2 linked regions of the Homo sapiens genome follow. The protein of the gene in region 1 interacts with the protein of each later gene in a pairwise test. Each region holds a gene or a part of one and is shown on either strand. Other genes may lie near its edges.

Region 1 (3,500 bases):
ATTTTAGCTGTAGGAATAAGATAATGAAAACAATTGATATAAATATTGGGGTAGACCAGTGCTCCTCTGGGAATTTAAGAAGACAGTGTGTGGAAGTTGGCATTAAACATGTTGTTTCAGAGGTTTTAGCTTAAGGAATAAGAGAAGAAAATAATTAGTTAAAAATGTTGGGAGTCCCAGAGGACGAAGTAAGCAAAAGTTGGTATAATACTGTCAGGGAGGTTTTGATTCTAGGAATATGAAATATTCTGGAATAAGAGAAGACTATGAAATAACTAGGGAAGCCCAGCACTGGTCCAGGGGTTTCAGAGGACAGAATGAGGACCAGCCATTATTAACCGTGTTTTCAAGATGTTGGCTATAGGAATACGGCAGGAAAATGAAACGTTGTGCATGGCAGGGCAGCATCACTTTGGGGATCTCAGAGTGGGAGTAGAAAGAGTCAGTATTAATAATGCAGTGGTGGTTTTCGCCAAAGCAGTAAGACAAGAAAGTAGGTGAGATAGTGTTTAGGGGCCCAATACTGGTCTTAGGGTACCAATGGATGGGTTAAAAACTGATAAATTTTAACATTGCTTTCAAAGTCATAGCTATGGCAATTAAAACAAAATAAAATCTCTGATATAAATGTCAGGGGGGGGTTCCAGCCCTGGTCTGAGAGACTGTACCTTGTCATAGTAGTACCGCAAGGCCCGGCTGAGCTTGTCGTAATTCATGTTGGTCTTGTTCTTGCGTAGCCCCCACAGCCGGGCCACCTCCTCTGCATCCACCAGCTTGAATTCACCACCATCCCGTGAAGTCCAGGAGATGATGTGGCCATTGCCTTGCTCTCTCAGCAGCTGCAGCAGAAACTGCCACAGCGTCACAGATGGGTCCATCGCTGGGGGAGTGCTCACGCCATCCCAGGGGTACCTGGAGAGCAAACAGCTGAGTTGAGAGGCTGTGGACATAGGAGGGGCAGAGGTCAGCGGGAGGAGGATTCCTTTTTTTGTCATCTTTTCTCCATCTCTGTCTTCAAACCCTACCATCATTCCCTAAACCTTCCCAGACTAACTTCTAGCTCCCCAGTCTTGCTTGGGATGCTCCCTGTGATGGGATACAACTCATGGGTATCTTAGGATGGTGTGAATGTATTTTGAATGTGAAACAAATGTGAATCTGTGGGGGTCAGAGGGCAGACTGTGGTAGGCCAAATGATGCCAACCCTGCTCCGCATCCTAATCCTCGGAACCTGTATGTTATTTACACTACATAGCAGAAAGGAACTTTGCAGATGAAATTAAGGTTACAAACCCTAAGACAGGGAGATTATTTCTGGATTATTTGATGAAATTCAATCTAATCATATGAGCTCTGAAAAGCAGATGATGGAGAAAGAAAGGTAGCTCAGAGATGTGATGACAGAAGAGGCAGGGGAGATTCAAAATGTGAGAGGGACTCAACCTGCCATTGTTGGCTTTGAAGATGGAGGAAGGAGGCTCAGAATCAAGGACTGTGGGCAGCCTCTTAAAGCTGGGAATGGCTGTCAGCTGACAGACAGTAAGGAAACAGGGACTTCAGTCCTACAATCTCAAGGAATTGGATTCTGCCAACAACTTGAATGAGCAGGAAATGGATTTTCCCCTAGAGCCTCCAGAAGGAACGCAACCCTGCCAATACCTTGATTTCAGCTGAGACCAGTGTGGGACTTCTGACCTACAGAACTGTAAGATAACAAATGTGTTGTTTTAAGCAGCTAAATTTGTGATTATTTGTTACAGCAAGAATAGAAAACTAGTTCCATCCTCCTCATTTGAATATTATCTGTATCTTCTACCATATCAATGTCAAGTTTTTCAGGAGGTTTTTTTTTTGCCAGACCCTTGCAAAGGCTGCTCACTCCACGTGGGGCTTCCTTCTTTCGCCTAGCAGTCTTTCTTATCTTTCAAGTCCCAGCCCAAAGGTCCTTTCCTTTATGAAGCCGTCCTAAAACTGAATGAATGCCTGATCTCTCTGTCCTGTTACTGTCCCTGAATGTTCTCGTTCTTTTTTTTTTTTTCTTTTTTTTTGAGATGGAGTCTCTCTCTGTTGCCCAGGCTGGAGCGCAGTATAGTGGCACAATCTTGACTCACTGCAACCTCTGCCTCCCAGGTTCAAGCGATTCTCATGCCTCAGCCTCCCGCATAGCTGGGATTACAGGTACCCACGACCACGCCCGGCTAATTTTTGTATTTTTAGTAGAGACATGGTTTCACCATGTTGGCCAGACTGGTCTTGAACTCCTGACCTCAAGTGATCCACCCACCTCCCACCTTGGCTTCCCAAAGTGCTAGGATTACAGGTGTGAGATACCGTGCTCGGCCCTGAATATTCTCTTTCTTGATGACAGCAATAATTAACATCTATTGAGAGCTTAATACACATCAGGCACTCTTCTAAGCAGAGAGGCAATATGGCCTGCTGGACAACTGCCCAGGCACTAGGGCCAGATTGCCAGTGTTTGAATCCTGGTTCTGCCACTTATTAGCTGTGTGACCCTGGGCATATTCTTTTTCTTTTTTTAAGAAATGGGGTCTCACTATGTTGCCCAGGCTGTTCTTGAACTCCTGGGCTCAAGCAATCCTCTCTCCCTGGCCTCCTAAAGTGCTAGGATTACAGGCATGAGGCACCACGCTTGGCTGATATTCTTTAACCTCTTTGTACCTCAATTTTCTCATGTGTAAAACAGGGATAATGATATGCCCATTAGTAAAATGGGGATAACAATACCTAGTTCACAGAGATATTGTACAGATTAAATATTATATGCCTGAGGTGTATGATAAGCTCTAAATATTAGTTTCTGATTTGTTCATAGTCCCTTATCTGCCATTCCAACATCCAAAATGCTCTAAGGGCAGAAAGCTTCTTTTAACTCTTTTGGTGGCAAAACCTGATTTGAAATGAAACAAGGCCCTTTCTGGTCTTTATTGAATCTCACTTATTGCGAGTGTTCATACATTTTGCTGCAGAAATATGAACACAGCCGATTACAGAGCTTACTAAGGGGTGTTATGTAACATCGTATATGCATCATGTTACCTTTCTGAAATGTGAAGAAATGGAAATTCTGAAACACATCTGGCCCCAGGGGTTTTGGGTAAGGGCATGTACACCTGTACTGTTATTTTTTTTTTTAATGGGCATTGACTTATTTATCCCTGATCATGCCTCTGAGAAGTAGGTAGTCTTCCTGTCATTAACTTATAAATGAGGCAGCGGAGGCACAAATGTCTACGTACCTTCCACAGGCCACATGTGGCAAAGCCAGCATTTGGAGCCAGGCAGTCAGGTTCCAGTTGACTAAGCATTTCACCATTAGGCTAAACGGCCCCTCACACCGACTATTCCCTCTCAGCATGTCCTTCAAAGAACAGGATCCTCCCTGTCACCCCATTACTGCTTTCTTTCCTGAGAGCAAACTGGAAATAAACATGAGCTTCCTGTTCAATTATACAAGTCACAAAGCCATGAAGTGTCCG
Region 2 (4,144 bases), on another chromosome or scaffold:
CTCCCACACTCACCTGGCACCACCATCCGCGCGGCTCTGCACCCACAGCCCCGGCCCGCCCCCCCCCCCCACCCCGGAAAGCTGCGTCCGGGCTGGAGCCACTGGAACCCGCGCCAAGGCCCGGAATCCTATACGTAGCAGGGGCCTCGGAGATCAGCACACGCCCTCCAGCTGCTATTTAACAGAGTAGAACACTGAGGCCCTGCGAGGGGACAAGGACAGGCCCTGGATCTCCCAGTGAATGGCCAGGGAACGAACCCGGGCCAGAGGGGCCGCGCCGCGAGGATCTCAGGTTAGGACCAAGTTCCGGCTCAGGGACAGCAGGAAAGGAACTCAGAAATTGGACACCCATGAAGCAAACGTGTCCCGACTGCCCGCCCCTTCCCCCGGAGACGCGCCCACCCGGCCACCGCTCTCTTCCCACTCCCCCATTACCCGCAGCCCTCACTCCCCGCTGCGGGAAGGGGCTGCTTGGCTGCCTCTGGGGGTCTTCAGAGCTACCCTGGTCCCGGGGGATTGGAGGAGGAGGTTACCTATCCTGCGTCGTCTTTAATCCGTGCACCACTATCCATCAAATAGAGACAGATCCTGGGCCTCTCAAAGACGGATGATTGGGGGTGGTGATTGGCCTATCCCTAAATATCTACCACGCAAGGACTCTTGAGAGATCCAGACCCCGGTACAGTCGAGGGACCTGGGGCCCAAAAAGGGAAAGCGGCTACCTCTACCACACAGTTGGGAAGCGCAGTCCTAAAGGAGACGCAGGTTGGAGACTCCGCTAAGCGGAGAAGCCGCAGTGGGGCCATGGCAAGTCACCTTCCCTTTCGGGCCTAGGAATACTCATTCGAAAGATGGGGGGACTGGAGTGCCGAGTGGCTGTGGCAGCCACGATTGGGGTTTGGAAACCATCCTGAAAGGCCCGGGGAGCCAGTCTCCTGGAACTTCTCCCTCCCCATTCCCACAAAAACCAAGCGCCCTCTCGGCCAATTCTCACCCTCTCAGGACAAAAAAGTGAGATGAGCCCGTCCTTTCACCTGCGAGTCCAAGCCCTTGGCAGAGGCCTGAAAAGTCCGAAAACTCCGAGTTCGGGCGCTGAGGTCTCCCGAGCCGGTTCCTGAACTCTCCGGGCCTCAGTCGATCGGGGTGCGGAGGGGGCCGACCCGGGGGATCTCCAAGCGCCCTCCCCGCCCTGACGCTGTGGGGCTCCTACCGCGCCGCCACAGCTGCTCCTACCTGGGGAGGTGCGCCCGGGCCCCGGGGGGCGGGCAGTCGGGGGGCGGGCAGGGAACCGGTGCCGCCCCACGCTTCGTGGCCCCTTTAAGGAGGGGAAGCCGGCGGAGGGAGGAGCCGGTCCGGTGTGTGCAGGGGAGCGCCTCGCCAGCGGTCCGCAGGGCTGGAGACCCACGCCGTGGAGAGGACCAGCCTCAGGTCGCCCCGCCTGGGCCCGCGCCCCGACCTCGCTGCCCCCGCCTCGCCTCTCTGCCCGTGGCGCTTACGGCCACCTTGGCCTCGGGGGCAGGGCATGGGCGGCCCCCGCCAGATCGCCCAGCGCCAGTACTAACTGCCCTCGCTCTGGCCTTCGAGCCCGAAGCCTCTTCTGCGCGCACAACCTAGGCAGTAATCCTAAACTAGCGGGCACCACAGACCAGCTGCAGCCACCCCAACCCAGGGATCACTTCCGGACCCCTCGACCGCCCGGCACCAGCGCGCAAGGGACCCTTCAGCCGGAGACCAGAGTCCAGTCCCGGTCACGAGGCCACCGCCGCTGCCCGCCTCGAGAAGCACCACGCGGGCTGAGCCGTCGGCTAGCGGGTCACTCCCGAGCCTCTGTCTGCACCGCGCCAGCCCCAGACCACGGACGCTGAGCCTCCAGCGCGTGCCAGCCTGGGCCGCTGGGCTCTCGGGGCCAGCCCGCGACGATCCCCTGAGCTCTCCGCAGAAGGGCCGAGCGTCCGTTCCGGGGACGCCAGGCCCGCCCCCGCCCCCCGACAGCCGCGGGGATCCAGAGCCCGGGGGTGCGGGACGCCCGCGCCATGACTGCCGAGAGCGGGCCGCCGCCGCCGCAGCCGGAGGTGCTGGCTACCGTGAAGGAAGAGCGCGGCGAGACGGCAGCAGGGGCCGGGGTCCCAGGGGAGGCCACGGGCCGCGGGGCGGGCGGGCGGCGCCGCAAGCGCCCCCTGCAGCGCGGGAAGCCGCCCTACAGCTACATCGCGCTCATCGCCATGGCCATCGCGCACGCGCCCGAGCGCCGCCTCACGCTGGGCGGCATCTACAAGTTCATCACCGAGCGCTTCCCCTTCTACCGCGACAACCCCAAAAAGTGGCAGAACAGCATCCGCCACAACCTCACACTCAACGACTGCTTCCTCAAGATCCCGCGCGAGGCCGGCCGCCCGGGTAAGGGCAACTACTGGGCGCTTGACCCCAACGCGGAGGACATGTTCGAGAGCGGCAGCTTCCTGCGCCGCCGCAAGCGCTTCAAGCGCTCGGACCTCTCCACCTACCCGGCTTACATGCACGACGCGGCGGCTGCCGCAGCCGCCGCCGCCGCCGCCGCCGCCGCCGCCGCCATCTTCCCAGGCGCGGTGCCCGCCGCGCGCCCCCCCTACCCGGGCGCCGTCTATGCAGGCTACGCGCCGCCGTCGCTGGCCGCGCCGCCTCCAGTCTACTACCCCGCGGCGTCGCCCGGCCCTTGCCGCGTCTTCGGCCTGGTTCCTGAGCGGCCGCTCAGCCCAGAGCTGGGGCCCGCACCGTCGGGGCCCGGCGGCTCTTGCGCCTTTGCCTCCGCCGGCGCCCCCGCTACCACCACCGGCTACCAGCCCGCAGGCTGCACCGGGGCCCGGCCGGCCAACCCCTCCGCCTATGCGGCTGCCTACGCGGGCCCCGACGGCGCGTACCCGCAGGGCGCCGGCAGTGCGATCTTTGCCGCTGCTGGCCGCCTGGCGGGACCCGCTTCGCCCCCAGCGGGCGGCAGCAGTGGCGGCGTGGAGACCACGGTGGACTTCTACGGGCGCACGTCGCCCGGCCAGTTCGGAGCGCTGGGAGCCTGCTACAACCCTGGCGGGCAGCTCGGAGGGGCCAGTGCAGGCGCCTACCATGCTCGCCATGCTGCCGCTTATCCCGGTGGGATAGATCGGTTCGTGTCCGCCATGTGAGCCAGCGTAGGGACGAAAACTCATAGACACATCGGCTGTTCACACGTTCCCCGCAATCTGAGAACGAACAGGAATGGAGAGAGGACTCAACTGGGACCCACGTGGAAAAGACCGAGCAGGCCACAGAGGCTCGGTCTCCCCGCGCACAGCGTAGGCACCCGGTGTACTCTGTAAACGGGAGGAGGTGGGGCGAGGCAGCCAGAGCCCTTGGACTGGCACAGGGACCCTCGATGGAGCGAAGCCCTCAAACGGGATGCTTTCTGGTATTCTATCGGGGAGGGTCCTTGGCGGTAACCAGAGGGCAGCGTAGTGTCAACACCAGAGACCAGGATCCAAATTGTGGGGAATCAGTTTCAGCCTTCCATGTGCTGCCGGAACTCGGGCCTTTTTACGCGGTTCGTCCTCTAGTGCCTTTAACTGCGTTACTACAATAAAAGGCTGCGGCAGCGCCTTTCTTCTTAAAGTGAGGAGGACAAATTTGCAAAAGAAATAGGCTTTTCTTCTTTTTTAAATTGGAGAAATCTCTGCTCTGGTTGACCTGGGCTGGTTTTCCCTGTCTCTGAGAACTTGAGACCTAGCTCCGAGTTGAACTGTGCGTCAGCACTCCAGTCCCATCACCTGAACCTTCAGTCTCCCCCATCTGTTACACTAGAGGGCTGCAGGACTCTATCCACCGCCCCCGGGTTATCATTCAGGGCCCCATCATCTTGGATGCTGCCCTGCGTATTTGGCAGCAATGGTGGGCCACCCAGGGCCTCTGAGTAGCCACCCAAAGCCTAGCCGCTGTTCTAGGGAACGGAAAAGAGTTCATGGCCAAGCGTCTAACCTAAAGTCCCAGGATTGGCTCCAGGCAGCAATTATATCATAACTTATTGAACTTTTGAGCAGGACGTGCTGGTAATTTCATGGCTGTTACTGCCCAGTCATAAATCTGCTTTTCCATTATAAGGCAGAGAGAAGTACATTCGTTCATTTGTCCACTGTTTCTT

What was found. The genes of interacting proteins can lie anywhere in the genome.
Region 2: the proteins of ELK1 (region 1) and FOXE1 interact in binary tests that used the Homo sapiens proteins (3 or more experiments, as listed by UniProt).

The regions. Positions count from the first base shown.
Region 1 is NC_000023.11:47,640,564-47,644,063, forward strand, and holds part of ELK1 (ETS domain-containing protein Elk-1), read right to left. Parts: intron 913-3,500; 5' UTR 879-912; coding exon 669-878; intron 1-668. UniProt on the Homo sapiens protein: Transcription factor that binds to purine-rich DNA sequences. Forms a ternary complex with SRF and the ETS and SRF motifs of the serum response element (SRE) on the promoter region of immediate early genes such as FOS and IER2.
Region 2 is NC_000009.12:97,851,882-97,856,025, forward strand, and holds the start of FOXE1 (forkhead box protein E1), read left to right. Parts: upstream 1-1,344; 5' UTR 1,345-2,033; coding exon 2,034-3,155; 3' UTR 3,156-4,144. UniProt on the Homo sapiens protein: Transcription factor that binds consensus sites on a variety of gene promoters and activate their transcription.